7 linked regions of the Homo sapiens genome follow. The gene in region 3 interacts genetically with the main gene of each other region. Each region holds a gene or a part of one and is shown on either strand. Other genes may lie near its edges. The genes, in order: TMEM38A, MTOR, SPPL3, DNAJB2, DNAI2, KIF11 and LETMD1.

Region 1 (5,112 bases), on a different chromosome or scaffold from region 3:
CTCCCCAAAGCCCTGCGTGTCCTTCTTTTTCCTACAAAGAGGAGCAGACAGTGTCCACTTTCAATGGGACATAGAGTCCTCAGCCCCCTGACCCCCAGCTCAGAAGGCCACAAACACTAAGTTTCAGCCCTGGCCCTGCCGCAAACTTGCTGTGTGACCTCTGACGTTCAATACCCTTCTCTGGGCCCCCACTGCCCGGACAATCACAGCCAGGTCAGCAGCCACCGACCGTTTACAAAGTGGCCCGACAGTGCGGGTGCAGGGCGGAAGGTCCGCGGTGGGGCTATTTCTTGGGGGATGGGGCTTAAGCTCTCCAGGAAGGTGAACAGAGGGACAACCAAGGAACGGAGAGTATGGGTTTAAGGTCTCTCGGGGGGTGGGGGGCGAGGAAGATAAACCAGGCTGGAGGCGTGCCCAGAGGGCGGATAGGGCGGGGCCTGCGGCTTGGGGGCGGGGCCTGAGAAGTGCGCCGAGATCACGCTTATGAGGGCGGGGCTACGGGTTCCCCGGATGGAGCCGCAGTCCGGCCGCGACCTACTCACAGCTTAAAGTTCAGCACCGCCCCGGCATTCATCAGCAACGTCCTGCAGAGGGAGAATTACAGTTACTAGGGGCGCCCCCGCGTCCTGCCTGGCTCTCTCTTCCCAGCCTCTGGTCCCCCTAATTACCCGAACAGCAGGATGTCTCCGATCATCGTTACGGCCGAAGCGTCCGTCAGAACCGGAAGCGGAAGCCCCAGGGAGGGAGGGGAGAGGAGCACAAGCCGACCAATCCTAAAGCAACAGTGGCGAGGGCTGGGCCAATCGAAGGTCAAGGCTGGGAGGGTCCCGCCCTCTGCAGGCCAGACCCCCTTAGGGGAGCGCGAGCGCCCCACCTCGCTGGGGAGGCCCCGAGAGCCAGAATGGGAGGAGCGGGGTCTCCTGGGGGCGGGATTGGGTCACGCGTTCGAAGCGTGCCGCGCATGCGTGAGGTCTCGATGCCGTAGGGTTAGCTGGGCAGCAATTCCTACTCACTTTCTGGGGTCCCAAATTGGGCTTCTGGACAAAAGGAATCCTTTGACTCCTGAGCTGCACAGGGTGCGGGGTCCTGACGCAGTGGGGTCCCTAGAAACGGGTGCCCCAACCAACTGGGCTCTAAAATGAGATCCTCCTGGGCCCCATGGGGAACGGGGGTTCCCACTGAGCTGCCCCCCACAAGACGTCCTGATTTGCAGAGCCCCACCGGAGACGGGGTTCCTGATCGAACGGACCCTATGGGGCAGAAAAGTCTTGACGGGGCTCCACAGAGGACCGAGGTCCTAACCTATCTCCACGGGGAACAGGGGTTCTGATTCATGGGGTCCCACCATGGCGTAGGGGTCCTCACTGGGCTCCACCGAAGATCGGGGTCCTAATTGAGCCCACGGGGACAAAGTCCTGGCCGATCCGGCCCCCTGGGAACGGGCGTCCCGCGTGGGTGGGCTCCGTGAGGGACGGGCCCCCAGAACAGGCAGCTCCCCAGCCTCCCTCGCCTTGCACGGGTGCCCCGCACCCCGCCTCGCTGGGCGGAACGGGGTAGCGATGGCAGGAGGGTCAACGCCTGGGACGCCCGACCGTCCAGCTGCGTCCGTGGTGCTGGGCGTCCCCACCACCTGTCCCGGGGTGGGCCGTCGCCCCTCCTCTCCCGCGGGGGCCGGGCCTGGGGTGGCGCCTGGCGGGCGGGGGCGGGCCCAGCTGCGGGGGCGCAGTCGCCGGGCCGCGGGCGGCGGGACGGACGAGGCCGGGGCCCCGGGTGGCACCCGGCAGGCGGGCAGGCGGGCGCCATGGAGCTGCTCTCGGCGCTGAGCCTGGGCGAACTGGCGCTCAGCTTCTCGCGGGTGCCGCTCTTCCCCGTCTTCGACCTCAGTTACTTCATCGTCTCCATCCTCTACCTCAAGTATGAGCCAGGTGAGCCGGGGCGGGGGGCTGGAGGGGACCGGCAGCGGGTGGCGCGGGCCGGGGCAGCTCGGGGGTCGCAGAGAGGGGAAGCCCGTGCGTGGTGGAGGGAGCGAGGGACAGGTTCAAGGATTGCATCGTGGGAGTAGGCAGGCGCTAGAATCGTGGGGTTCTCTCACGCCGGGGTGAGCCCGGGGGAGAAGCCCCCAGGACGATGAAGCTGGGGGAGGGGAAGGAGAGGCGTGCGCGGGTTTAGAGGAGGGGGAACAGGTGCTTGGGGTCGGGGCTCCTGGTTGGGTCAGAGCTGCAGGAACTTGGGCAAGGGGCGCCGGCTGTGGCGAGGGTGCAGGTGGGGGTCGGTGCATCTGTTCTGGCCGCGCGCAGGTGTGACCTCCCTCCTTGACCTTGGCACGCGGATTGAGAGCGCCAGCGGAGTGTCTATAAGGGCCACTGCGCTGGGGGCTGCGGTCAGGTTCAGCGAAAGTGACACCGGTTCTCCTCCCCACTGCAACTGCCCAGCACCCTCCACTCCCCTCCCTTCCCCCACGGTGCTGAATCTCCGAGCCCCCACGGGAATTCTTCCAGCCCTGGCTCCAGATCCTTTCCACTTACGGAGCAGAACCGGCCCCAAGGCTGGGTGACTTGGGGTCAGTGTCCTCCATCTCAGCTCCAGACTCCACGCTGGGGAGGTCACAGGAGGGTACAGCCTGCTTCTTAATTTTTAAAATGAGGATGAATGGCTTCCTTAGAACGTGTTCTATTTTTATAAAAGGTTCACCGTGAACAAATGTTTAAATGTTTCTTGTTCACCGTTATTCTAGAACACCAGCAACTTACTAGATAATAGATTTTAGGCTTAGAAAAATAAAGGAACCCCAAACTTCATAAGCCTTTCTCCCACTTAGATGTAAATTACCACTATAGCTCAGAAAGGAAATAGCTTTATTCTCAGAGGATAAAAATAAGCGCCCCTGTTTACTAAAAACTCAAACTGAAAAGGGCAAAGGAAAAAAAGAGAATTACTGTCAACATACTGGTGGCCAGCCACCTTTCTTGATGTCTCTTCTATTCATTTACGGCTATATAGTTATAAACGTAAATGCACGCTTTTTTTTTTTTTTTTTTTTTTGCGGTTTTTTTTTTAGATGGAGTTTCGCTCTGTCGCCCAGGCTGGAGTGCAGTGGCGTGATCTCGGCTCACTGCAACCTCCACCTTCCAGGTTCAAGCGATTCTCCTGCCTCAGCCTTCTGAGTAGCTGGGACTACAGGCACCCGCCACTACACTTGGCTAATTTTTGTATTTTTAGTAGAGACAAGCCTTCACCATGTTGGCCAGGATAGTCTCGATCTCCTGACCTTGTGATCCACCCACCTAGGCCTCCCAAAGTGCTGGGATTACAGACGTGAGCCACTGCACCCAGCCAATGCACGCTCTTATGCTAACAGGATTACACTCTATTTGCTAGGAATTTTTATTCTATTTTTGCCTATCCACATGCCAGAGCCTATTTTCTTAAAAGCTATCCTGGAGAACATTACTTTGCAAAACAAAATAGGCTTTTGTGTTGTCCTAGCATGAACATGGGGCTATCTTTCCTTTCTGGGGAAGAATTCTTGGTGGTTCAGGCCAGTTCCTTGGGCAGTTGCAGAACCTTAGAAAATCTGAAACTGGCTGGGCACAGTGGCTCACGCCTGTAATCCCAGCACTTTGGGAGGCCAAGACGGGCAGATCGCCTGAGGTCAGGAGTTCGAGACCAGCCTGGCCAACATGGAGAAACCCCGTCTCTACTGAAAATAAAAAAATTAGCCAGGCATGGTGGCACATGCTTGTAATCCTAGCTGCTTGGGAGGCTGAGGCAGGAGAATCACTTGAACCTGGGAGGCGGAGGTTGCAGTGAGCCGAGATCACGCCATTGCACTCCAGCCTGGGCGACAGAGCAAGACTCTGTCTCGAAAAAAAAAAAAATCTGAAACTGAGGAGGGTTGGAGCCCTGTGGGAATGTAGGACACAAATGTCTTGAGAAAAGAGGTCTCCAAGCTGCCTGGGAACTTGCAGGAAGGTTCAAGATATTTCTGCAGAAGTCCTAGAATAAGCCATCCAGGCTCTAAGTGCCAGAGCCTGAAGGTTCCTGAAGGCTGAGAAGTGGTTCCAAACCCTGGCTATTCATGAATTCATGAGACGCTCCTGGGAGCTTTTTTTCTTTTCTTTTTTTTTTTTGAAACGGAGTCTCGCTCTGTCGCCCAGGCTGGAGTGCGGTGGCGCCGCCTCTGCTCACTGCAAGCTCCGCCTCCTGGGTTCACACCATTCTCCTGCCTCAGCCTCCCAAGTAGCTGGGACTACAGGCGCCCACCACCATGCCCGGCTAATTTTTTTTTTTTTTGTATTTTTAGTAGAGACAGGGTTTCACCGTATTAGCCAGGATGGTCTCGATTTCCTGACCTTGTGATCCGCCTGCCTCGGCCTCCCAAAGTGCTGGGATTACAGGTGTGAGCCACTGCGCCCGGCCTCCTAGGAGCTTTTAAACCCCCTATCTCCACCCCCCACCAATTGAATCAGAATATTAATCTCCCCTCCCTCAGTGACTGATGTCTGTTATCAGGGCTGAGGATACTCCACCCAGTTCAACCTCCTCCTTTCATAACTGGGGAAACAGGAAATAGTGGCTAAGCTATCTTAAATACACAATGAGCCTGTGGTCCCATGGCTGGTCAGTTGCAGCCTCGGGACTCAGCCCAGGTCTGCTTGACTCTAAGAATCAGTACAATTGATGTGAGATTGGTTTCCTTAGAAAAGAAAGGTGTTGGAGGCCAGATGTGATGGCTTATGCCTGTAATCCCAGCACTTTGGGAGGCGAGGCGGGTGGATCACTTGAGCCCAGGACTTTGAAACCAGCCTGGGCAACATGACAAAACCCCGTCTCCACTACAAATGCAAAAAAATAGCCAGGTGTGGTGGCGCACGCCTGTAATCCCAGGTACTTGGGAGGCTGAGACATGAGAATAGCTTGAATCCAGGAGACGGAGGTTGCAGTGAGCCGAAATCTCGCTGCTGCACTCCAGCCTGGGTGACAGAGCCTGGCTGAGACTCTGTCTTGGAAAAAAGAAAGAAAGAAAAGAAAAGTGAGGTGTCGGATTGAACTGTTAGTCCCAGTTTGGTGTGCGTGCTGGGTATCTGTAAATTTTCTTCTCAGAATTTGTGT
Region 2 (4,213 bases), on a different chromosome or scaffold from region 3:
CAAAAGTGAATATTTGAGAAAAACAGGGCACCCATTGAACCTGTTGTATTGCTCCCATTCTTACAGTTATTTCTACTTTTGTGTATTCCAGTTGGAGACGGTTTGGTGAAACCAGAGGCCCTAAATAAGAAAGCTATCCAGATTATTAACAGGGTTCGAGATAAGCTCACTGGTGAGTGTGTCATGTGTTTACTTAAAAGGGACATAAAATCTGAGCACACTTTCCTCTCTGAGTGGTGGTCAGCCCCATGTCCAGTGGTGTTAGTGACGAGCTTTGGCACCATGCAGCTGACAAAGAGTGTCTTTGAGGTCATCAGTTAAACATTGTCTCTGATTCTTCTTTCTGATGACTGATAACAGTACTTAATGTTAGTTTAATCTCATTTAACTCAGGAGGTGAATAAATTTCTTTTGGGTCCAAAATCAGCCAAATTCAGAGAAGTGTTTTTTAATCATGTCTTTTTTTTGTTTGTTTGAGACAGTTTTGCTCTTATTGCCCAGTCTGGAGTTCAGTGGCTCCATCTTGGCTCACTGCAACCTCTGCCTCCCAGGTTCAAACAATTCTCCTGCCTCAGCCTCCCGAGTAGCTGGGATTACAGGTGCACGCCCAGCTAATTTTTTGTGTTTTTAGTAGAGATGGGGTTTCACCATGTTGGGCAGGCTGGTCTCAAACTCCTGACCTCAAGTGATTCACCCACCGCACCCGGCCGAATTTTTCTTTTTTTCTTTTCTTTTTTTTTTTTTTTTTTGAGACAGGGTCTTGCTCTGTCACCCAGGCTGGAGTGCAGTGGTGCGATCTTGGCCCACTGCAACCTCCACCTTCCAGGTTCAAGTGATTCTCCTGCCTCAGGCTCCCAAGTAGCTGGGACTACAGGCATGTGCCACCACACTCGGCTAATTTTGTATTTTTAGTAAAGACAGGGTTTCACCATGTTGGCCAGGCTGGTGTTGAACTCCTGACCTCAGGTGATCTGCCTGCCTCAGCCTCCTAAAGTGCTGGGATTACAGGCGTGAGCCACCGCACCTGGCCAAACTTTTCAAATCCAACTATGATGGTATCCTTCATCTTCATGTCTGACGATAAGCTGTTGGCATAGACAGTTAAGCCCACAGGGAACAAGAAGTGCATCGATTGCCAGGAAGAGAGTGAAATGTTTTTGTTCCTCCTGTGCTAGGTCGGGACTTCTCTCATGATGACACTTTGGATGTTCCAACGCAAGTTGAGCTGCTCATCAAACAAGCGACATCCCATGAAAACCTCTGCCAGTGCTATATTGGCTGGTGAGTGGGGCTCTCAAAGTGACTTTGTTAAAATAAGCAATCAGGTCCCAAGCCTAGGCCCCAAAGCCAGAGTAGCAAAAAGAGATTTGGTGAGGTATCTGTAAAGGGCAGTTAGAGCTCAGATCTCTTTAAAAATTCATATTTACTGCATGTGCCCATTGTTATAAAAAAAGAAACTGAGAAATATGGATGCATACTTGGAAGGCAAACACTAAAATTAAAATTACATTAAGATAAGTGGTTCAGGAGAATAGGCAAGGCTTGTTTGTTTGTGAGGGGTTCCTTTTGGGTTTTGCTGTCAGTCCAGTGCAGAGATACAGGAAGGGCGAAGGAAAGAAAAAGCTAGAGCAGTGACAGAGAGAAGGAGATAAAAAGACAGATTTATGATCTGGGAGTCTAACCTCAAGGGCCACTCTGGGGTGTGCTTTGATTAATTGCCCAAGGCATGCTTGAAGGCAGAAACTTGAGAGAGCGGGCGCTGGGGAAGTGTCCTTGCGGGACCTCGGTGGGCATTAGCCTTGACTGGAAATGATGAGTGTGTCCCATGCAATTAGCTGTGGGAGAGCTCAGGGAATACCCTAGGGTTGTCAGACCTTGGCCTTTTCATTTTCAAGTTATCTGTGTAAACCTTTGAAGAAGCTCAAATTATTAAAATATTCCTTTTCTTTCTGCCTTCTTAGGTGCCCTTTCTGGTAACTGGAGGCCCAGATGTGCCCATCACGTTTTTTCTGAGGCTTTTGTACTTTAGTAAATGCTTCCACTAAACTGAAACCATGGTGAGAAAGTTTGACTTTGTTAAATATTTTGAAATGTAAATGAAAAGAACTACTGTATATTAAAAGTTGGTTTGAACCAACTTTCTAGCTGCTGTTGAAGAATATATTGTCAGAAACACAAGGCTTGATTTGGTTCCCAGGACAGTGAAACATAGTAATACCACGTAAATCAAGCCATTCATTTTGGGGAACAGAAGATCCATAACTTTAGAAATACGGGTTTTGACTTAACTCACAAGAGAACTCATCATAAGTACTTGCTGATGGAAGAATGACCTAGTTGCTCCTCTCAACATGGGTACAGCAAACTCAGCACAGCCAAGAAGCCTCAGGTCGTGGAGAACATGGATTAGGATCCTAGACTGTAAAGACACAGAAGATGCTGACCTCACCCCTGCCACCTATCCCAAGACCTCACTGGTCTGTGGACAGCAGCAGAAATGTTTGCAAGATAGGCCAAAATGAGTACAAAAGGTCTGTCTTCCATCAGACCCAGTGATGCTGCGACTCACACGCTTCAATTCAAGACCTGACCGCTAGTAGGGAGGTTTATTCAGATCGCTGGCAGCCTCGGCTGAGCAGATGCACAGAGGGGATCACTGTGCAGTGGGACCACCCTCACTGGCCTTCTGCAGCAGGGTTCTGGGATGTTTTCAGTGGTCAAAATACTCTGTTTAGAGCAAGGGCTCAGAAAACAGAAATACTGTCATGGAGGTGCTGAACACAGGGAAGGTCTGGTACATATTGGAAATTATGAGCAGAACAAATACTCAACTAAATGCACAAAGTATAAAGTGTAGCCATGTCTAGACACCATGTTGTATCAGAATAATTTTTGTGCCAATAAATGACATCAGAATTTTAAACATATGTATATGAGTGGCGTTTTAGTCATAATTTTGATCAGTTCAAAAAGGAAGCATTTACTCTCTTCAGCACTCAGCCTTCAGTAAACACTCTGTAGTAGGGATGACAGAGGACGTAAGGGTGTACGTGACATGGTCCCTTTCCTCAGACTGTTCCCAGGCCAGACAGGTGGAGACAGCATGCCACTGAAGTGAACAGAACTTACCCCGGCCAAGTGCTGAGAAGAGGCATGTATGGGCCACAGGTAGGAGCGTGTATTCCACCGGGTGAGCCTGGAAAGCCCCATAGAAAGGGGGACATTTGGCATGGGTCTTAAAGAGGGGTGGGAGTCTGTCAGATGAACCAAGGGGGGGGCATTCTCAGCAGAAAAGGAAGTGTGAGGCACTGCTGTAAAAGCAAGGTATCCATAGCAGTGGCAAGTATCAGTTGGACCATTTGAAATCACAGGTACGTGGACCATTTTTAATATACAAAACTGGCATTTTCTTATGGCTGCACCTCATAGTTCAGCATGTCTGGCTCAGTGGTCAGTGGGGAATAAAGGGAGTAACAGGAAAATAATAGGAACTAAAGGAGGCAGGAAAGCAGTACGGGGCCGGGGCCAGACCGGGGCCTCCCTCAGTTCAGCAGCAAGGAGTATGAACCTGATGCTGTGAAGTTTTAAAACGGAGTAGTATCTGAGTGGTGTTTTTTGTTTTTGTTTTTGTTGGAGACTGGGTCTCGCTCTGTCACCCAGGCTGAACTGCAGTGGCACAGTCATGGCTCACTGCAGCCTCGGCCCCCTGGGCTCAGGTGATCTTCCCGCCTCAGCCTCCCAATTAGCTGGGACTGCAGATGAGCACCCCCACCGCCAACTAATATTTGTATATTGGGGGAAATTCACCCCCGATATTTCACATAGGTTCTTTTCTATATTCCCTAAGTGTCAGCCGGTCTGAGAAAAGGGACAGAGTACAAAAGAGAAATTTTAAAGCTGGGTGTCCAGAGGAGACATCACATGTTGGCAGGTTCCATGATGCCCCCCTGAGCCATAAAACCAGCAAGTTTTTATTAGTGATTTTCAAAAGGGGAGGGAGTGTACGAATAGGGTGTGGGTCACAGAGATCACGTGCTTCACAAGGTAATAGAATATCACAAGGCAGTGGAGGCAGGGCAAGATCACAGGACCGGGGCAAAATTAATATTGCTAACGAAGTTTTGGGCACGCTTTGTCATTGATAACATCTTATCAGGAGACAGGGTTTGAGAGCAGACAACCAGTCTGACCAAAATTTATTAGGCGGGAATTT
Region 3 (3,175 bases):
CAATATATAGGAAGACTTCATACCTGGAAAAAAAATTTTTTTTTTTTAAAGAATCAGACAGCTGTGTGTGCCTCATGTTTAAATCTGTAACTTAGAAAGTCCCTTGTTTCCCAGGGCGACCTCCGGCGGATGTGGTCTGAGCCTTTCCACTCCAAGTCCAGCAGCTCCCGATTCCTGGAAGTATGATGGATCACGTGGAAAGTGACCAGATGGCCGTCATAGTCCTTTTCTCTCAACTCATGGTTTGTTTCCTCTTAGAGCTGGCCTGGTACTCAGAAATGTACCTGTGTTTAAGGAACTGCCGTGTGACTGGATTTGGCATTTAAAGGGAGCTCGTTTGCAGGAGAGAGGTGCTGGAGCCCTGTTTGGTTCCTTCTCTTCCTGCGGATGTAGAGGTGGGGCCCCTTCCAAGAGGGACAGGCCTCTCCCCAGCGCGCCTTCCTCCCACGTTTTTATGGATCTGCACCAGACTGTTACCTTCTGGGGGAGATGGAGATTTGACTGTTTAAAAACTGAAAACAGCGAGGAGTCTTTCTAGAACTTTTGAACACTAAAAGGATGAAAAAAATTAGCAAACCGAAGTTTCTTCAATGACCCCTCGAGAACTTTGGGACCAGTTTCCTATAGGGGACTCAGTTTCAGAGAACTGAGACAGAAGCTCTTCTGTCGTTATATTCTTCTTTCCTTTTTTTGGATTTATTAAATATTTTCTGTGGTGTGAAGTGACTTATTAAATCCACAGACATTGAGTGACTTCTTACAACATCCACATAAGAATTTGTTGTAATGAGTTCATGTCCACCCAGATGTTGTGTTGGCAGTGAACAAGGGCACGGTTTTTATACATACGTACATATATATATATAAACACACACATAGATATATATGAATAAACAAAAATGAAATCCTGCTAAGATCACGCTGTGTAGCTGACAGGGGCTTGCTGTCGTTTTGAGCATGTCGAGCAGTTTACTGTGGCTTCCTTGTATATGGATAAGCTGCTGTCCTTCCCCTTCACAACTGACCCCGCAGTTACAAACTAGTATAGCATTTGTGCTGATTGATGATAGACTCATGGACTTCAGGAGCCCTTACTTGGTTTTGATCAGTGTAGCAAATTAGGGATGAAGAGTTCAAACCTTTTGGCCCTTTCTTTCTTTTCTAGGCTTCTCCCTCGCAGGGTGTTCCGTAGTTTCTTCTCGAGCCAATGCATGTATTATAGCAGCAGGTGTCTTTGTGCTTTCTCATCATAGTAACGTACTACTTGTAAATACATTTTTCTATTTTCTATTTTTTTGTATTTTTTTTTTTGACATTTTGTTTCATTGGTGTGCTGTATATTTTCCATGCCCTCACTCCTTTAAGAAAAAAAAAAAGGAAAAAAGCAACACAATCCTGTCCTTGCTGTTGTGATTATAGTCTTGGTTTACCTGTGGTGACAACCGGGTGTTGGGGACACATGTCAAATGCCCCTCTGAGATGGGCCCTAAATTCCAGTAACTGGGGAAAGAACCAGCTGCTGTGTCCTGAGAGCCTGGCCCTGTGCTGTGGTCTCTGCTGCAAGCCCAGATTTCTGGGAGTAACTAGTGTTAGGTCTGCTGACCTTTACCTAAGCAGCCCCTGCCTGGTAAGAAGGTGCCCATTGTTCAGAGGCAAAGAGAAGCCTGCGGTTGGCATGAGGATGCCTGACAACAAAGGCTGGAGAAGGGCCCTGAGTTCCAGCCTCTCCCCAAGGGTCCCCGCCCCAGTGGCTGCCTCTGTCTTGACCTGTGTAATGAATTAGTGTGCTGTGTCACTGTGGCTTGAAGTCACTGTGGATCGAGCTCACAGGGGGCACCCATCCTGTTGTCAACAGAGTCTGAAGCAGTCAGGGTGTTGGATTCCTCTGTTGTTGTCATCAATTCCTGCTGAGGGGTTTCTGGGGTTTTGTTTTTAATAAATGACTCCTTTGTAGCCTTTGTCACATAATCTTCACTTTGGTTGTTGGTACCAAACAGAGCTCCCAGCCATCTCCTCCCTGTTCTGGAAGACTGATGGGAAGACTCTGTCTGTCCCCAGACCTGGTCATCTGCAGCTCTGGCCCAGTCATAGATACATCAAAGAACTGAAGCTTCTGCTGTCCACAGAACTCAAAACTGCCTCTGCATTGGGTGAAGACTAAAAATCCACTTGCGGACTCTCCCTTCCTTCCTTCTCAGCCCTCGAGGATGCATATAGCTAATTAAGCAGGCCCAGAGACAGAGAGGGGGGCTCCAAAATGACTCGGATTAAGGGCAAGTGCCAGTGATGGGTAGAAATAACGTTATCCTTCATGCCTGTAATCCCAGCACTTTGGGAGGCCGAGGCAGGTGGATCACAAGGTTGGGAGCTCGAGACCAGCCTGGCCAACATGGTGAAACCCCGTCTCTACTAAAAACACAAAAATTAGCTGGGCATGGTGGCAGGCGCCTGTAATCCCAGCTATTTGGGAGGCTGAGGCAGAAGAATCGCTTGAACCTGGAAGGCGGAGGTTGCAGTGAGCAGAGATTGCGCCACTGCACTCAAGTCTGGGCGACAGGGTGAGACTCCATCTCAAAAAAAAAAAAAAAAAGGAAATGTTATCCTGGCAGTGGGTCATTTTAATTTTTCTGTCTTTGTTTTCATAAGAAAATTAAATTCCAGACAGAAGGAACGTCGTTATTTTGTCATTCTCACTTCTGTGCAGGTTTTGGGGGGAAATACCCACACAGGGCTGTGAATGCACCCTGGATTCCAGTTGCTAATCTTCAAAGCCCTTAAAACACTCCCTTAAAACTTTGGCAGAGAAACAGCAAATACTCTACTCGTCTCGGAGGGTTGAGTGGGTGGCTGCAGTTAAAGCACACATTAGACTTCCCTTCCAGTGCTCGTTTGCTCCCCGCTGCCTGATACACTTAGGTCCGCCTCTTATTCTGTTTTCTCAAATACCATGGTTTAGGGGTTTTCTAGGAAGTCTGCTGCATTAGGCATGGCATGCTCATGAAATTTCAGCAGATTCCTTCCTCACTGATCTGAAGTCCTTTTTCCTCACAAAGAGACTGTGTGTTACTAGAACTCCCGCTTTTTAATAACTCTTTTTTCTAGTTTGAGCTAATGAAGATATGACAGTAAAGTCTGTCCAAAGCCTAGTGTGTTCCATTGCTGTTATTACAGTGCA
Region 4 (4,933 bases), on a different chromosome or scaffold from region 3:
CTTTGTCCATTTAAAAATGTCATTGTCTTTCATTAGTTGGCATTTCTTTGTGGACAAAGGAAATTAAACCTTTGTCTGCTAGATGTGCTCCATATAATTTCCCTCAGTTGTCATTTGTCTATGTCCTATCCCCTTGAGCACAGAGATTGGAATTTAAACTTTTTTATATTCTTTTTCTTAATATAACAAGACATACACGGTAGGTGCTAGACAAATGTCTGTTGGCACAGCAGAGTAAGAAGAAAAAGGCAGAGATCTGGAAAATTTGGAGTGACTTAACCCAACCACTCCTTCCTCTTATACCAAGTCTAACCCTTAGTCTTTGTGTCAGTCAGGACTCTTATAAACAGCAGAAGCTAACTGGCAAATTGTTTCAAGTCCCCTGCCCCCAACAATTATAGAGATATCGGATAGCACACAGAATCAATGCAAGGGCCAGCAAACAAGGGTCAGCAATCAGACAGGCACCTAGGGAAGCTGGGCAGCCAGTACCACAGTCAAGGTTGGGCACAGGACAGCCTGTGTAGGAGACTCCTGTCCCCTCCACCCTCCGCAGTGATCCTCCTACTCTCGTCCCTCACCTGCGGCAGTAGCGCTGACACTTCCTCCTCCAGACACTAGAGGCCGCTGTTGGCCCCATCGCCTCCACCGCCGCCGCAGAAATGAATTCCTAAACCAGCCTTGCTATTCCGTGACTTGCTCCAGATTCAAAGTCCCAGTTGGAGCATCCGATTGGCGGAGCTCATGTCTTCTGCCTGCAACCCCAGAGCCGAGTCAGGGAGAGCAAGCATTGGGGCTTTGTGGCAAATGGTGGCCTGCTTTCCATTAGGGCCCTTGCGATGGGAATTCCCCAAATGTAGGCAGGAGGTTCTGATGGTGGGCAGCCAGGAAACCAGGACACTCACACCACCTTCTTCTCTCACGTCCGCCTCAAACCCTTCTCGTTGGCGAAGTATTCCTGGGTCCCCCAGCCTAAAGCACTTTTCTGGACTCACATAACCATTATTGCTTGAGCCAATCACGATGCCAGCAGGACCGCAGTAACACCTAATTCGTACCATGTCTCATTTGACTTTCAAACAACCCTAGGCACTACCTATATTTAGTGAGAAAAAAAGAGTGCTCAGAGATTTTCCCAAGTCTCACAGTAATGCCAGGTTGTACTCTGTTTCCAAAGCCTCGGGTTTCCCAGCGGGCTACACTGATGGGCTGGTATCTTATCAAGTTCAAGCTCTGCAAAGGCAGGGCTTGGGCCACATTCTTCTTTATACGGCCTGGCAGCATCTTGAATGCAGAAAAATGCTCAGCTAACGCCTTTGGATTGGCCTGGATGGGATCAAGCAGGAGCCAGTTCTGGAAGGTTTCCTAACTCTCCAATGAGGCCTGAACCCAGGGAGCATTTTGAAGTGGAATAGGCCTACTCAGGATCAGTTTGGGAAGACTTGAACCTGGGGAATTCCGTTGTACGGCCCCCTTTACCTCACCTCCCCCAAATGTGTCAAAACTGTCAACAAGAGGTTTGCAGGTGTTCATTATTTATTCATCCCACGGGTAGTTTTGAACCCCTACGACTGCTCTAATAGACCAGTGAGAAAAAACACACAATTCCTGTCCTGTGAAATCGACATTCTAGTGGGGGAGGTGAATGGTAATAAAAAATAATCAAACCAATAAATGCTAATTTGTGGCTCTAACAAGCCTGATGAAGGAAATGCCACGAGATGCTGTAAAAGGCAGTTCTGACCTACTCAGGAAAGCCAGGGCAGCCTGCTGGGGGACCTGGGGCTGGAGCTGGGAGCTGAAGAAGGGGGAGGAGTTAGAACCGTGGTGGGGGGAGGGAGGGAAGAGTCTGAGTCCTCGAGGTGGGTGAGTAAGCATGGATCATCGCTCATGTTTATAAGAAAGTGACAGAGGAACCTGGGGGCCGAGCGGCTTGTTTGTGGGCTGCCCCAGCCTCCGTGCGAGCGCTTCTCGCTTGGATGGAGGCGGGGCCGCAGTCTCCCAGGTCCCAGCTGGGGCTGACGTCGTCCTGGTGTGTGCCCAAAATAGCCGGCTCCGCCCTCTTCTCCCGGCAGCCCCTGCAGGCCCCCACCCCCCCAGGGGACAGGCGGAGCCGGCCTTCTCCCCGTCTCTAGTAGTTTCCGCACCGCTGACGCATGCCTGCGCGCACAGCTGGGCCGGGCGCGTCCTACGCAGCAGCCGCGAGCCGGGCTGCGGGTGCCAGACGGTTCCCGGCGGGGGGCAGGGGCGGGGCGCCGCAGGAGGCCGGGACTCCTGGCGGAGGAGGTGCGGCCGGGGGCCCGGGTCAGGCTGGGGGCCCTGGATCGGACTGCTGGAGTTGGGGGGCCCCGATAGGGCTCCTGGGCCTGGGCGTCGAGATAGCTCTTGGCCCCGGCCTGCGGGGGCAGATAAGGCTGCCGGAGGGAGCCTAGTCACCGGCCGCAAGCAGAGCCCGGTGTGCTCCGCTTCCAACTGGGAGCGCCTTCCGCCACCCGGGGAGGGGGACTGCTGCAGCCACAGGGTGGGGCTCTTGGTTCTTTCCGCCTGACTCCTTCTCTTCTGCAGCCCCAAGGAGGCCCGCCTGACGACTGACCAGTTGCCATGGCATCCTACTACGAGATCCTAGACGTGCCGCGAAGTGCGTCCGCTGATGACATCAAGAAGGCGTAAGTGCCTCCGTATGCAACAGAAGACCTCTCACCCTCCACCCGCCACCACCATGGGGCACTTCAGAGTGACACCTGTAGGTGTCTGAGGGAACCAGGTCGTTAGAAAGCACTGGGGTGCTTCTTCCGAGTGACACCTGCAGGGAGGAAAGAGACCCCTGGTAGAGTACAAGGAGAACGTCCAGAGAGTGAAGTAGTTAGTTCCTCTGGGAGCTGCACTGTGTTATGGGTTGTTCTCCAGTTGATCTTCCCCTCCTCCTCCTCCTCCTCCTCCTTTCCCCTCCCCTCCCCCTTCCCCCTAGATTTGGGCATTCTCAGGCTGCAGTGCAAAGATGCAGTGCAAAGAGGCTCTATGAGGAGGAGGGGCCGGTGTCCCTGTACTCTTCGAGGCCACATGTGCCCCAACCTTTGCAGCCCCAGTCCAGTGAGCCCTAGGGAGGGGCTAGGGACCCTGGCATTGTATCCGCTTGTACATGTGGTCCCAGCACTGGTGGCGGAGGAGAGAGGGTGGAACTTGATGAAAATATCACAGCAGCGGCAGCCCTAGCAGCTGGGGTGGACTGGGACCCGGGGGTGAAAGGACAGTGATAGGCTAATGGGAAAACAGGTCGTTCGGTTCCTGGGTGGGAAGTGCCTGCATTTGTCCCCCGACTCTCTCCTCTGCACCCACTTTCTGCAGGTATCGGCGCAAGGCTCTCCAGTGGCACCCAGACAAAAACCCAGATAATAAAGAGTTTGCTGAGAAGAAATTTAAGGAGGTGGCCGAGGCATATGAAGTGCTGTCTGACAGTAAGGGCCGGGGTCAGGCAGGACCCAGCACATCACCCCCTACTTCATGCCCCAGCTCACATTTTCTTAAAGCAATGTCTCTGCCACCTAGTTTCCTCTGTGCCTTTTTCCAGCCTGACATTTAAGCTCCCCCCTCCCACAGGGACAGCTCAGTGTCTGCTCCCCAGAGTCTGGTAGGAGTGGCTGGCATGAGACCTGAAAGGGGAAGGAAGCAGGGCAGGTAACTCATGTGAGCTGAGCCTCCTGCGTGCCAGGCATTGGTGGGTGTCATCTCCATGAGTTCTCACAGCCGTCCTATGAGGCAGGTTCTATCACCCCTATTTTACAGGCAAGGAAACTGAGGCTGAGAGAGGTGAAGTAACTTGCTCAAGGCCACGCAGAGCTGGAATATGAATCCAGGTCTGCCTTTTTATTGATTCATTCGAAAAGTAATTCAGTGAATGGTGACAGTGTCCGGCACTCGCTGGGTGCTGGGGAAACTGGAGGACAAGCAGGCACTGTCTTTGCCCAGAGGGGCAGGGAAGACCAACACCTACCAGGCACACACACAGACACAGTTACAGCTTGTGAAGAGTATTCCGAGGGAAGAAACAGGGCAGGTGGAGTGCTAGGGAATAATGTGCACTTGCTTTAGTTCTGGTGGTTGTAGAAGGCCTCTCCGAGAAGGTGACATTTAGGCTAAGCCCTGGTGAATAATAATGTAGTAATCATTAGCTAACATTTATTGAACACTTTCTATGTGTCAGGCACTGGTAGGCAGTTTACGTGGATGGTCTCATTTGATCTGTGCAACAACCCTGTGCGGTAGGTGTTGTGATGACAGCCATTTTCCAGATGAGAAGAGGCCAGCTGTGTGAAAGGCTGAGTTGCTGCCTAAACCTATAGCCCGTGTCCCCTGGGTCCCCTGCTGTGCCTGCTTTCCCCCGCCAAGTGTCAGAGTGTCAGTCTCTGGACAATCCTTTGAACGTCCTAGCCTGGGAGGGGAGCCCATCCCAGAGGGAGGGTGAAATGATCTGGTCTCTTTTTGCAGAGCACAAGCGGGAGATTTACGACCGCTATGGCCGGGAAGGGCTGACAGGGACAGGTAGGTGGAGTGGTGAGGCCCAGGAATGGAGGTGGGGCAGGGAGGAGAGGGGCAGGGCAGATTCTTGCAATGGAGGCTCTCTCAGGCTCCTGGCTGTGCCTTAGGTGAGGTCCCCCGCTCAGGGCAGGATGCATGCCCTAAGCTCTCTCCTCATCCTGCCTTTCCAGGAACTGGCCCATCTCGGGCAGAAGCTGGCAGTGGTGGGCCTGGCTTCACCTTCACCTTCCGCAGCCCCGAGGAGGTCTTCCGGGAATTCTTTGGGAGTGGAGACCCTTTTGCAGAGCTCTTTGGTGAGTGGACTCTGGAAGCCTCTGAATGGCTCAACTTCCCCCTCCAGGCCTGTCCTTCCATCAGCTGGGAGGCCCTGAGGTGGAAGGCTGAGAGGGGACGGGAA
Region 5 (4,454 bases), on a different chromosome or scaffold from region 3:
AACACCGTCTCTACAGAAGAAAAACAAAAACAAAAATTAGCCACGTGTGGTGGTACATGCCTGTAGTCCCAGCTACTTGGGAGTCTGAGGCTGGAGGATCCCTTCAGCCTGAGAAGTCAAAGCTGTACTGGCCGGGCGCAGTGGCTCATGCCTGTAATCCCAGCACTTCCAGAGGCTGAGGCCAGTGGATCACCTGAGGTCAGGAGTTCAAAACCAGCCTGGCCAACATGGTGAAACCCCGTCTCTACTAAAAATACAAAAATTAGCCGGCCATGATGGCGAGCACCTGTAATCCCAGCTACTGGGGAGGCTGAAGCAGGAGACTCACTTGAATCCAGGAGGCGAAGGTTGCAGTGAGCCGAGATTCCGCCATTGCATTCCAGCCTGGGCAACAAGAGCGAAACTCCTTTTCAAAAAAAAAAAAAAAAAGCTGTAGTGAGTCAAGATCATGCCACTGCACTCCAGCCTGGGCAACAGAGTGAGAGACCCTCTCTTAAAAAAAAAAAAAAGGAAAGAAGGGAAAGTGGCGACACCCACGTGTAAAACTGTCCTCCCTGCTAGAGAGGATAGGCAAAGCAAATCCAAACTTGGAGTTTTAACGTTCAATTTTTGTGACACTGACATTGTCAGTGATAGGGTGGCATTGTTAATGATAGAGTGAAGAAAGGCTATTCACTTTTTCTTTTTTCTTTTTCTTTTTTTTTGAGACGGAGTCTCGCTCTGTCGCCCAGGCTGGAGTGTAGTGCTGTGATCTCGGCTCACTGCAACCTCTGCCTCCCAGGTTCAAGTGATTCTCCTGCCTCAGCCTCCCGAGTAGCTGGGACTACAGGCGCCCACCACCACGCCCGGCTAATGTTTTGTATTTTTAGTAGAGACGGGGTTTCACCGTGTTAGCGAGGACGGTCTCGATCTCCTGACCTCGTGATCTGCTCGCCTCGGCCTCCCAAAGTGCTGGGATTACAGGTGTGAGCCACTGCACCCGGCCAATTATTCACCTTTTCTTTGGATTCTCACAGAGCAGATGGACAGGCTTCTCTGGTCCATTAGAATTCAGATAAGGTCAGAACAGGATTTTCATGACCACAGCTACCAGTTGCAAAGCTGCTTAGCTCCACAGGGTTGCGCTGTTGCAGCTACCTGTGCCCACCTGATCACCAGGAATTTCCTTGCCTGCATTTGAAAATACTGTGGCTCCGGCCAGGGCGCCTCAGCATCCAGCCCTGGGAGCCCCCGTGGGACCTGGCTTGCAGAAGTGGCCGAGGGTTTGGGAGTATACCAGGGTGACGTCTTCCCTCCTGCGGCTCTCTGTTTAGGCCAACTCAGAGCGGTTTGAGATGGAGACCCGGGGAGTTAACCATGTCGAGGGGGGCTGGCCCAAGGACGTGAACCCCCTGGAGCTGGAGCAGACCATCCGTTTCCGGAAGAAAGTGGAGAAAGATGAGAACTACGTTAACGCCATCATGCAGCTCGGCTCTGTAAGGCTTCCTCCTGCCCCAGCTGCAAGAGCCCCATCCATCACTGCAGCTCCCCAAGGGATGCACTGCCCCAGCTGTGCCTGGCCATCGCTGTGAGGCTCGTGTGAATGCTGGGGGGAAGGGGACCAGCTGCTACCTCAAGGAGCCTTCTGTCTGGGAGCAGGCAGAGGTCCCAATCACAGACCAACAGGGAAGGCAGGGAGGTACAAGGGCTGACCAGGCATCAGGAGGAGTCTGACCTTGGGCAAAGGTGACTCCCAAAGTGCCCCACCCAGCAGCCAATAGGGATCATTCATTCATTTGACAAATTTGGACTGAACTTCAAGCCTCTGCCAGGCACAGTAGAGGTTGCAAAATGAATCTCATAATTGTTCTACATACTTGCCAGTGCAAAAAAAAAAAATTGTTTTAAGGAAAAAGAAATTTAAAATTTAAATTAAAAGAAAAAGAATCTCTTATACATCCTGTCCCAAAGAGATTGCAGTCCATTGGAGGTCAAAGACAAATACAGAGACATCACCAGATAACATAAAAAGAAAGAAATGCTGAAAGAGAAGCATGACTTGTCCTTTGACTCCATGAGGAGGGAGGGTCAATCTCCTGCTGAAGGGAACAGGGAAGGCTTCCTGGAAGAAGTGGCAGGGCTTGGTTGTCCTTTGGTGGACATTTGCAATAAAGGGGAGGGCATTCTGGATGGAGGAACCAGCTGTCTGCAAGGACAGGAAGAAGGAGATGAGTGCCATATACACACACACACATATATATATATAGAGAGAGAGAGAGAGAGAGAGAGAGATTAATAATTTTATTTGGGCTGGGCTTGGTGGCTCACACCTGTAATCCCAGCACTTTGGGAGGCAGAGGCAGGCAGATCACTCGAGCTCAGGAGTTTGAGACCAGCCTGGCCAACATAGCAAAACCCCATCTCTACTAAAAATACAAAAATTAGCCAGGTGTGGTGGCACATGCCTGTAGTCCCAGCTACTTAGGAGGCCGAGGCAGGAGAATTGCTTGAACCCGAGAGACGGAAGCTGCAGTGAGTCCAGATCGCACCCCTGCACTCTAACCTGGGCAGCAGAGCAAGACTGTGTCTCAAAATAATAATAATAATAATAATAATAATAATAATAATAATAATTTTGTTTGTCTAGCATGGTGTTCTTCAACCTTTTCTTCATTATTGGCCTTCATGTTTTTTCTAATGGCCTTCTGCCTCCATAAAATGTTTGTTGTTGTTGAGACAGAGTCTCATTCTGTCACCCAGGCTTGAGTGCAGTGGCGTGATCTTGGGTCTCTGCAATCTCCACCTCCCGGGTTCAAGCAATTCTCCTGCCTCAGCCTCCCAAGTAGCTGGGATTACAGGCGGCTGCCACCATGCCCAGCTAATTTTCTTTTGTATTTTTGGTAGAGATGGGGTTTTACTATGTTGGCCGGGCTGGTCTCAAACTCCTGACCTCAAGTGATCCACCCGCTTCGGCCTCCCAAAGTGCTGGGATTACAGGCGTGAGCCACCGCACCCAGCCCATCAAATGTTAATGCTATAGACATACTGTATATCTGTTCATGCGCTGCATGTATTTCCATGCTTTGTACCTAAAAAGCAATATTATTTTACCCCCAGGAACCAATTGAAAATTCCTCCATTGAAAGCACATGGTTAGGTGGATGGGAAAAGCCCCTGGCTATGTCCTGTCCCTCCCAGACTCCATTGCAGGCCTGGGCAATCTGAAAGGACCTCCATTTACTGCGGAGAACTTCCAATGTGTCCCCCCTAGATCATGGAGCACTGCATCAAGCAGAACAATGCCATTGACATCTATGAAGAGTATTTCAATGACGAGGAGGCCATGGAAGTGATGGAGGAGGACCCTTCAGCTAAAACCATCAATGTGTTCAGGTAGCGCCATAGCCAGGCAGGTGTCTGGCCACCCTCCGTCACCCCCATGCATGGGCGCCTCCAAAGGCAACTCCTTGCCATCGCTGCATGCCCTGGGTGCAGCACTGTCTGTGCTCTGAGCTTGATAAGTGACGTGGTGATAAGTCACCCAGCAGAGAAGTGGCCCTGCTCTGGGGGCGGGTCTGGTTGATGGAAAGGGAGTACAGACTCCAGAGAAAGTGAAATTGCCCAGCTGCGTACAGGTGGGGCATGTTCCTGCAGGGCAGAGTAAGTACAAGTACCAAGCATGAGCAGCTAGCAGCACTGTGGGCACACAGGCCCCCGCCGCGGCCTGCACTCATGCGAGTATATCCATGAATAACTCCAGAGGATAGAAGTTTGACACCAGGGATTCATCCCACAGGTTGTGTGTGTGTGTGTGTGTGAAATCACCGCAGGCGTGGATATTCACTGCAGAGGGTGTATGCCAGCCAAAGACTAGAACAAGCTAAGTCCATCCATAGGGGACTGGTTCTAGCAGTTCTGGCACACCCACACGACGGAATGCCATGCACCTGGTAAAGCGAGCGGGGCAGTCTGGGCATGGTGGCTCACGCCTGTAATCCCAGCACTTTGGGAGGCCAAGGCGGGTGCATCACCTGAGGTCAGGAGTTCAAGACTAGCCTGGCCAACATGGCAAAACCCCGTCTCTACTAAAAATACAAAAATTAACTGGGTGTGGTGGCACATGCCTGTAATCCCAGCTACTCGGGATGCTGAGGCAGGAGAATCACTTGAACCTGGGAGGCGGAGGTTGCAGTGAGCCGAGATCGCACCACTGCACTGCAGCCTGGGCAATACAGCAAGACTCTGTCTCAAAAAAAAAAAAAAAGCAGTGCAACTTCTTATGTGCTGATATGGAGTCATTTCCAGGATTCAGTATGTGAAAACCAAACCAAAACAAAGCCGGTGCAGAACAGGGTGTGCAGAGTGCCACTTTTTGTGGCAGTCCCCAACTTAAACCATTTTTTGTCTTTGCAAGGCTGCAAAAGCAATGCAAATCCAGGAGAAACCGTACTTCAAGTACCCATACAACCATTCTG
Region 6 (4,454 bases), on a different chromosome or scaffold from region 3:
TGAGTTGTTTTTGTAATTTCCTTTTTAGATTGTTCATTCTTAGTGTATAAAAATGTAACTGGAGGCTGGACGCAGTGGCTCTCACCTGTTATCCCAGCACTTTGGGAGGCAAGGTGGGCCTCCCAACTCCTGATCACGAGATCAGGAGTTCAAGGCCAGCCTGGCCAACATAGTGAAACCCTGTCTCTACTAAAAATACAAAAATTAGCCATGCATCGTGGCGCGTGCCTGTAGTCCCAGCTACTTAGGAGGCTGAGGCAGGAGAATCGCTTGAACCTGGAAGGTGGAGGTTGTGGTGAGCCAAGATCGTGCCACTGTACTCCAGCCTGGGCAACAGAGTGAGACTCTGTCTCAAAAAAAAAAAAAAAGAAAAAAGAAACGTCGCTGGATTTTGCTTGTTGACTTTCTATCCAGCTACTTTGCTGAATTCACTTATTAGTTCTAACAGTTTTTTTTTGTGTGTGTGTAATTTTAGAGTTTTCTTTTCTTTTTTTTTTTTTGAGATGGAGTCTCGCTTTGTTGCCAGGCTGGAGTGCAGTGGCGCGATCTCGGCTCACTGCAACCTCTACCTCCCAGGTTCAAGCAATTCTCCTGCCTCAGCCTCCCGAGTAGCTGGGACTACAGGCACACGCTACGACGCCCAGCTAATTTTTGTATTTTTAGTAGAGACGGGGTTTCACCATGTTGGCCAGGATGGTCTCGATCTCTTGACCTCGTGATCCACCTGCCTCAGCCTCCCAAAGTTCTGGGATTACAGCCGTGAGCCACTGTGCCTGGCTTTTTTTTTTTTTTAATTAACTATTGAACTTCTGTTTATTATTATTATTATTATTTATTTATTTATTATTTTTTGAGATGAAATCTCGGTCTGTTGCCCAGGCGGGAGTGCAGTGGTGTGATCTCGGCTCACTGCAACCTCCGCCTCCCGGGTTCAAGCAATTCTGTGCCTCAGCCTCCGGAGTAGCTGGGATTATAGGCGCTCGCCACCATGCCCGGCCAATTTTTGTATTTTTAGTAGAGATAGGGTTTCATCATGTTGGTCAGGCTGGTCTTGAACTCCTGACCTCGTGATCCGCCCGCTTCGGCCTCCCAAAGTGTTGGGATTACAGGCGTGAGCCACTGCACTTGGCCTTATTTTTATTATTTTTTTCATCAACTTTTAAGTTCTGGGGTACATGTGCATGATGTGCAGGTTTATCACATAGGTAAACCTGTGCCATCACAGTTTGCTGCACAGATCAACCCATCACCTAGCTATTAAGCCCAGCATCCACTAGCTATTCTTCTTGATGCTCTAGCTCCTTTTGCCCCACTGAATTTTAGGGTTTTCTTTCTTTTCTATTTTTTTTTCTTTTGAGACAGACTCTCGCTCTGTCACCAGGCTGGAGTGCAGTGGCACAATCTTGGCTCATTGCAACCTCTGCCTCCTGGGTTCAAGCGATTCTCCTGCCTCAGCCTCCCGAGTAGCTGGGACTACAGGCATGCGCCCATGCCTAGCTAAGTTTTTGTAGTTTTAGTAGAGACAGGGTTTCACTATGTTGGCAAGGCTGGTCTCAAACTCCTGACCTCAAGTCCCCTTGGGGTTCCTGAAGTACTGGGATTATAGGTGTGAGCCACCACGCCCGGCCAGATTTTCTATATAAAAGATCATATAATCTGCAGACAGATAATTTTACTTTTTCCTTTTCTTTCTTTTTTTCTTTTTTTGAGATGGAGTCTCGCTCTGTCGCCCAGGCTGGAGCGCGGTGGCGCCATCTCTGCTTACTGTTACCTCTGCCTCCTGGGTTCAAGCAGTTCTCTGCCTCAGCCTCCCAAGTAGCTGGGATTACATGCACATGCCACCACGCCCAGCTAATTTTTGTATTTTTAGTAGAGATGGGAGTTCATCATCTTGGCTAGGCTGGTCTTGAACTCCTGACCTCGTGATCCATCCGCCTTGGCCTCCCAAAGTGCTGGGATTACAGGCATGAGCCACCGCTCTTGGCCCTCAACCTTTTCCTTTTCAATTTGGATGCCTTTTATTTTTATTTTTCTTCCTTTTTTTTTTGAGATGGAGTCTCGCTCTGTTGCCCAGGCTGGAATGCAGTGGTGCAATCTCTGCTCACTGCAACCTACGCCTCCTGGGTTCAAACGATTCTCCTGCCTCAGCCTTCCGAGTAGCTTGTACTACAGGCATGTGCCACCATAAACAGCTAATTTTTTTTTTTTCTCGTATTTTTAGTAGAGACGGGGTTTCGCCGTTTTAGCCAGGCTGGTCTCGATCTCCTGACCTCGCGATCCGCCTGCCTCAGCCTTCCAAAGTGCTGGGATTACAGGCGTGAGCCACCATGCCCGGCCCTTGTTTTTCTTTCTTGCCTAATTACTCTAGCTAGAACTTACAGTATTATGTCGAATGGAAGTGGCAAAAGTGGGCATTGGGCATCCTTGTCTTGCTCCTGTTCTTTTATTTGTTAGTTTGTTTGAGATCCTCCTGCCTCAGTTTCCTGAGTAGCTGGGACTATAGACACACTACTACACCCAGCTAATTAAAAAAATAATTTTTTTTTTTTTTTTAGAGATGGGGTCTCGCTATGTTTCCCATGCTGATCCTGAACTCCTGGCTTCGGGTGATCCTCTACTCTTACCCTCCCATAGTGCTGTGATTACAGGCATGAACCACTGTGCTGGCCCTGTTCTTGTTTTTAGAGGAACATTCTTCAGTCTTTGACCATCAATTATGTTTGCTGTGGGTTTTTCATATGTTGCTTTTATTTTGTTGAGGTAGTTTCACTCTATTCCTAGTTTGTTGAGCATTTTTATGACTAATGGGTTTTGAATTTTGTCACATGCTTTTCCTGCATCGATTGACATGATTCTGTGGTTTCCTTCATTCTGTTAATGTGGTATATTACATTGATCAATTTTTACATGTTGGACCATCCCTGTATTCCAGGAATAAATCCCACTTGGTCATGGTGTATAATCCTTGTGCTGCTCAGTTCAATGTGTTGGTATTTTGTTGAGGATTTTTTTTTATCAGTGTTCATAAGGGATAGTGATCTGTAGTTTTCTTGTAGTTGCCTTTGTCTGGCTTTGGTATCAGGGTAATGCTTGCCTCACAAAATGAGTTGGGAAGTGTTCTCTCCTTTGCCAGATTTTTTCTGGGAAAAGATTGAGAAGAACTGGTATTAGATCTTCTTGAAATGTTTTATAGAATTCACCTATGAAACTATCAGATCTAGGGCTTTTCTTTGTCAGGAGATTTTTGGTTAGTGAGTCCATCTCTTTACTGGTTATAGCTCCATTCAGAATTTCCATTTCTTTGTGATTTAGTCTTTGTAAGTATTGTGTTTCTAGGAATTTGTTCAGCTGGGTTATCCGATTTGTTGGCATACAATTGTTGAAAATACTCTTTCAACAATAAGAGAGAAGACACAAATAACTAGTTCTTTTGTTTCCAGTTCCTTAAGTTGTAAAGTTAGGGTGTTGATATGAGATCTTTCTTGCTTTTTAATGTAAGCATTCATAGCTATAAATTTCCCCCTTAGCACTGCTTTTGCTGTGTCCCGTAAGTTTTGGTATGTTGTATTTTCATTTTCATTAATCTCTAAAATTTTCTAATTTTCCTTGTGATGTCTTTGAACCCTGGTTACTTAAACACACACACACACACACGTGTGTGTGTGTGTGTGTGTGTGTGTGTGTGGTTTTTTGTTTGTTTTGAGACTGAGTTTCGCTCTTGTTGCCCAGGCTGGGGTGCAATGGCGCGATCTCGGCTCACTGCAACCTCTGCCTCCCGGTTCAAGCGATTCTCCTGTCTCAGCCTCCAGAGTAGCTGGGATTACAGGCGCCTGCCACCACGCCTGGCTAATTTCACACACACATTTAAAAAATACATCTACCTGCTTTTACTTCAGAATCTTTGCAATTTCTGTTCTCTCTGCCTGAAAATTTTTTCCACCAAAATATCTACAGGGCCTGGCTCCCTTGCTTTTTAGGTTCTGCTTAAATATCACCTGCGTAGAAGCATTCCCTAACTACCCTAAAATAGCAACCAACTATCTTCCACCCTCAACACTTCCTATCCCCCTTAAACTGCTTTCTTTTCTTTTCTTTTTTTTTTTTTTTTTTTGAGACAGAGTCTCGCTCTGTTGCCCAGGCCTGGAGTGCAGTGGCGCATTCTTGGCTCACCGCAACCTCCACTTCAGCCTCCCAAGTAGCTGGGACTGTAGGTGGCTGCCACCATGCCTGGCTAATTTTTTTTTTTTTGAGATGGAGTCTCACTCTTTCACCCAGGCTGGAGTGTAGTGGCACAGTCTCGGCTCACTGCAGCCTCCATCTCCCAGGTTCAAGTGATTTCTGGCTAATTTTTGTATTTTTAGTAGAGATGAGGTTTCACCATATTGGCCAGGGCTAGTTTCGAACTTCTGACCTCAAGTGATCTGCCCACCTTGGCCTCCCAAAGTGCTAGGATT
Region 7 (3,552 bases), about 70 Mb from region 3:
ACTTTTTTTTTTTTTTTTTTTTTGAGACAGAATCTCATTCTGTCGCCCAGACTGGAGTGCAGTGTCGTAATCTCGGCTCACTGCAAGCTCCGCCTCCCGGGTTCACGCCATTCTCCTGCCTCAGCCTCCTGAGTAGCTGGGACTACAGGCGCCCACCACCACGCCTGGCTAATTTTTTGCTATTTTAGTTGAGACGGGGTTTCACCGTGTTAGCCAGGATGGTCTTGATCTCCTGACCTTGTGATCCGCTCGCCTCAGCCTCCCAAAGTGCTGGGATTACAGGCGTGAGCCGCCGCGCCCGGCCTCATTCCATTAACTTTATGAAATTCTCTTTTCCTTGTTATCACCTTAAAGTGTCCAGCAAGGAGATCAACTTCAAATCAGTTTCTGCAAAACTTCCATCCCATCAGAAGGTTCTATGCCAACCAATTAAATCCCCATTTGTTAGATTATGTCAGTCTTGTAAAAGGAGACAGCAAAATGATTAGAGTATGCATAAGTCATTTCCATCAACAGGTTTCAAGCAGTCTTTACTTGGGTTTAAAAACAGTGCTTCATGCATTTACAATAAGTTATTACAGAACTCTAAGTCACTGATGCACACACAAAAGCTAAACCCAACTTACTAACTATGCAGACCTCTCCTGATCTCCCCAGGCTGGGCAGTAATTAGTACCTTACAGGTGTGATCCATGGCCCAGAGAAGGCAGCCACTGTCAGTTACAGTTGGACTGCTGCATCACAGTGGAGGCAGCAGAGTTGAAGATCCACAGAGGGCTGTAATACAGCCCAGAAAAGACAATGGAGAGTGAAGGCTAGAAACATTGAGGAAGGGGTCAAGAAGCACTTGTACTTCCTGTTATCTTTTCCAATAGAATATTCCTGCAAGTTACCCATCAGAAAAAGGTGTTCAGAGGGTTTGAAAAAGAAGTGGTTAGCCCATGCCAGTGAAGGTGACAAAAAACAAAACAACTTGATTTTTGGTCATATCAGAAAGGATGGAGGGAAACACCCAAGTACATGCACGGACACATGTGCTCCAGCCAAAGGAGTGCTGTTTTCACCAGCCACAAATTTTCTAACAGCAACAACAAAAACCCACAGATGTAAGTAACATGGAAGTGGATCAGTCCTAAGCCAAATAAGGATTCCCACCTGGGGCAAAAGCTGACTTCCTAGGACATGAACTGAACACATCACAGTAAAAGCCCAGTAGAGGCTGCTGCCAGTTCCAGCTATTAGTAATTATGAGGGGGACAGGATGACACCTCACACGGACCACCCCTAGCAAGAGGGTTTGTTTCAGTTCTAGCTGTGAGAGGAATGTCTGCAGTTCCCACATGTGTGCCATGCTGTGAAGCCCATGGCCCCTGCTCCTCTCTCTGCCTCCCACACACTTAACAGTACACACAGACTTTGCTGGCAAGTGCTGTTTGTTCCTGCACTGCTATACTATACGACTGCAGGACAATGCCATCCGCTCCATGGTTCATTCAGCGCCTTGTCCCAAGGTAGTTGGTGGAGAGCAGGACCACGTTGTGCAGCAAGAGAGACAGCTCAGCTTCTGAAAACACAGTGTTAGTGGTTTGGCTTGGGAACACTGCCTTATAACTGCCTTGTTATATATGGCTTAAGCCTGGAGGCAGGAAGCCAAGTGCAGGGAGGGGTGGAATGAAGAAGCTGTTTTTCTCAAAGTTCCCCTTCTTTGTTTCAGCCCCTGTATGCATGCCTTCCTTTCCTTCTACTATATATTCGTATCAACTCATCCTCTATTTCTCATGTGATTGCAGTAGAAAATTCAGAGATGGTAATGGTACTAAACACCAGTCGCGTTGGGATTCTTCTGGTAGAAGTTGGTGCTCTAGGGACATTTCTCAGCTTCAAGATTAGTAGGCCTACCCTAACATCCAAAGGCCCACAAAACATCAAGACCTAGCCTAAACAGGGGGCAAACAAGCCTAATACATACCCTCAGATGCTTTGTGTTTGGTCAGCAGACTGTTTTTTTTCTGAGTTTGAATGCCTTTAGACCAGTACTTCTCAACGGGGACAATCCTGCCTCTCTCCTCCCCACCCCTAGGACATTTGGCAATGTCTAGAGACATTTTTGGTTGAGACAACTGTGGGTGAAGGGGTGCTACTGGCATCTAGTGGGTAGAGGCTAGGGATACTGCTATAATAAATACCTATAAAGAACAGGATAGGCTGGACATGGTGGCTCACGCCAGTGATCCCAAAACTTTGGGAGGCCGAGGCCAGCGGATCACCTGAGGTCGGGAGTTCGAGATCAGCCTGACCAACATGGAGAAACCTGGTCTCTACTAAAAAAAAATACGAAATTAGCTGGGCGTGGTGGTGCATGCCTGTAATCCCAGCTACTTGGGAGGCTGAGACAGGAGAATCACTTGAACCCAGGAGGCAGAGGTTACGGTGAGCCGAGATCGCACCATTGCACTCCAGCCTGGGCAACAAGAGCGAAACCCCGTCTCAAAATAAATAAATAAATAAATAAATAAAGCACAGGATATTCCCCCCATAAGGAAGTGCCAAGGTTGGAAAATTCACACTAGCATGCATTCACTCTTAGGTTTCCACAGTCCCCACTACTCCCTCTTGTCTTATGGCCTACTTCGTTACCTGCCGGGCATGCAGTAGGCATGTGAGTTTGTGCCCTTTCAATTAGATGTATGTATATATATGTCTCACAGTACTCAATAATTAACTCCAAAATGACCTCAGAATAAAATACAAAAGTGACTTGGATTTTAGTGGTATAACCACAGAAATGTGTTTTACCTTTCAGGCTGCAGGAAATCTGCAGCCATTCTCCCAGCCAAGTTCGACACCTATCTTCACCAATATGCGTAGAATTCAGGCCACGGAGATAACAAGCCTATACCACTCAGAACAGAAATGGTCCTTAATAATCATAGAATGATTATGCCAAGGAAATGGAAATCCACAAACAATCCTAAATCTCCTTTAAATAAGTTACAATCTCACCGGGCACGGTGGCTCGTGCCTGTAATCCCAGCACTTTGGGAGGCCGAGGTAGGCGGATCACGAGGTCAGGAGTTGGAGACCAGCCTGGCCAATATGGTGAAACACCATCTCTACTAAAAAATACAAAAATTAGCCAGGCGTGGTGGCATGCACCTGCAGTCCCAGCTACTCGGGAGGCTGAGGCAGGAGAATCACTGGAACCTGGGAGGCGGAGGTTGCAGTGAGCCAAGATCATGCCACTGCACTCCAGCCTGGGCAACAGAGCGAGACTCTGTCTCAAAAAAAAAAAAAAAAGTTACAATCTCATTCCCACATGAAGCCTTTCCTCATGGCAATTTGAAAACTAGTGATGGACAAGATGACAAAAGCAAAGAGTCCTATATAAGCTAAAATAGTAGGTCTAAACTGCAGTATCCTTGCTTTCTGAAGTGCCAGAAGAAAAGAAATACAAACCAAAATTTCTGTGGGCAATTCCTTCCCCCTAGCTAAGTTTCTTGAGAAAAAAGACACAGAAATGAGGTGAGGAGCTGGGCGCAGTGGCTCATGCCT

The links.
Region 1: changes in SPPL3 (region 3) and TMEM38A together harm fitness less than expected from each alone (positive genetic interaction), as found in Homo sapiens cells (one large-scale study listed by BioGRID).
Region 2: changes in SPPL3 (region 3) and MTOR together harm fitness less than expected from each alone (positive genetic interaction), as found in Homo sapiens cells (one large-scale study listed by BioGRID).
Region 4: changes in SPPL3 (region 3) and DNAJB2 together harm fitness less than expected from each alone (positive genetic interaction), as found in Homo sapiens cells (one large-scale study listed by BioGRID).
Region 5: changes in SPPL3 (region 3) and DNAI2 together harm fitness less than expected from each alone (positive genetic interaction), as found in Homo sapiens cells (one large-scale study listed by BioGRID).
Region 6: changes in SPPL3 (region 3) and KIF11 together harm fitness less than expected from each alone (positive genetic interaction), as found in Homo sapiens cells (one large-scale study listed by BioGRID).
Region 7: changes in SPPL3 (region 3) and LETMD1 together harm fitness less than expected from each alone (positive genetic interaction), as found in Homo sapiens cells (one large-scale study listed by BioGRID).

Annotation. Positions count from the first base shown.
Region 1 is NC_000019.10:16,659,417-16,664,528, forward strand, and holds the start of TMEM38A (trimeric intracellular cation channel type A), read left to right. Parts: upstream 1-1,722; 5' UTR 1,723-1,801; coding exon 1,802-1,925; intron 1,926-5,112. Other genes in the region: SMIM7 (small integral membrane protein 7 isoform 1 precursor), read right to left, coding at 1-31, 543-584, 669-694. UniProt on the Homo sapiens protein: Intracellular monovalent cation channel required for maintenance of rapid intracellular calcium release. Acts as a potassium counter-ion channel that functions in synchronization with calcium release from intracellular stores.
Region 2 is NC_000001.11:11,105,249-11,109,461, reverse strand, and holds the end of MTOR (serine/threonine-protein kinase mTOR), read left to right. Parts: intron 1-91; coding exon 92-172; intron 173-1,175; coding exon 1,176-1,281; intron 1,282-1,961; coding exon 1,962-1,977; 3' UTR 1,978-2,927; downstream 2,928-4,213. UniProt on the Homo sapiens protein: Serine/threonine protein kinase which is a central regulator of cellular metabolism, growth and survival in response to hormones, growth factors, nutrients, energy and stress signals.
Region 3 is NC_000012.12:120,762,010-120,765,184, reverse strand, and holds the end of SPPL3 (signal peptide peptidase-like 3), read left to right. Parts: intron 1-114; coding exon 115-186; 3' UTR 187-2,675; downstream 2,676-3,175.
Region 4 is NC_000002.12:219,277,233-219,282,165, forward strand, and holds the start of DNAJB2 (dnaJ homolog subfamily B member 2), read left to right. Parts: upstream 1-2,133; 5' UTR 2,134-2,286; intron 2,287-2,565; 5' UTR 2,566-2,601; coding exon 2,602-2,666; intron 2,667-3,345; coding exon 3,346-3,455; intron 3,456-4,485; coding exon 4,486-4,539; intron 4,540-4,706; coding exon 4,707-4,829; intron 4,830-4,933. UniProt on the Homo sapiens protein: Functions as a co-chaperone, regulating the substrate binding and activating the ATPase activity of chaperones of the HSP70/heat shock protein 70 family. In parallel, also contributes to the ubiquitin-dependent proteasomal degradation of misfolded proteins.
Region 5 is NC_000017.11:74,283,727-74,288,180, forward strand, and holds part of DNAI2 (dynein axonemal intermediate chain 2), read left to right. Parts: intron 1-1,313; coding exon 1,314-1,475; intron 1,476-3,250; coding exon 3,251-3,372; intron 3,373-4,454. UniProt on the Homo sapiens protein: Part of the dynein complex of respiratory cilia.
Region 6 is NC_000010.11:92,599,172-92,603,625, forward strand, and holds part of KIF11 (kinesin-like protein KIF11), read left to right. Parts: intron 1-4,454. UniProt on the Homo sapiens protein: Motor protein required for establishing a bipolar spindle and thus contributing to chromosome congression during mitosis. Required in non-mitotic cells for transport of secretory proteins from the Golgi complex to the cell surface.
Region 7 is NC_000012.12:51,057,373-51,060,924, reverse strand, and holds the end of LETMD1 (LETM1 domain-containing protein 1), read right to left. Parts: intron 2,920-3,552; coding exon of another isoform or gene 2,894-2,919; coding exon 2,797-2,893; intron 2,322-2,796; exon of another isoform or gene 2,187-2,321; intron 1,565-2,186; coding exon 1,494-1,564; coding exon of another isoform or gene 1,490-1,493; 3' UTR 501-1,489; downstream 1-500. UniProt on the Homo sapiens protein: Plays an essential role for mitochondrial structure and function, as well as thermogenesis of brown adipocytes.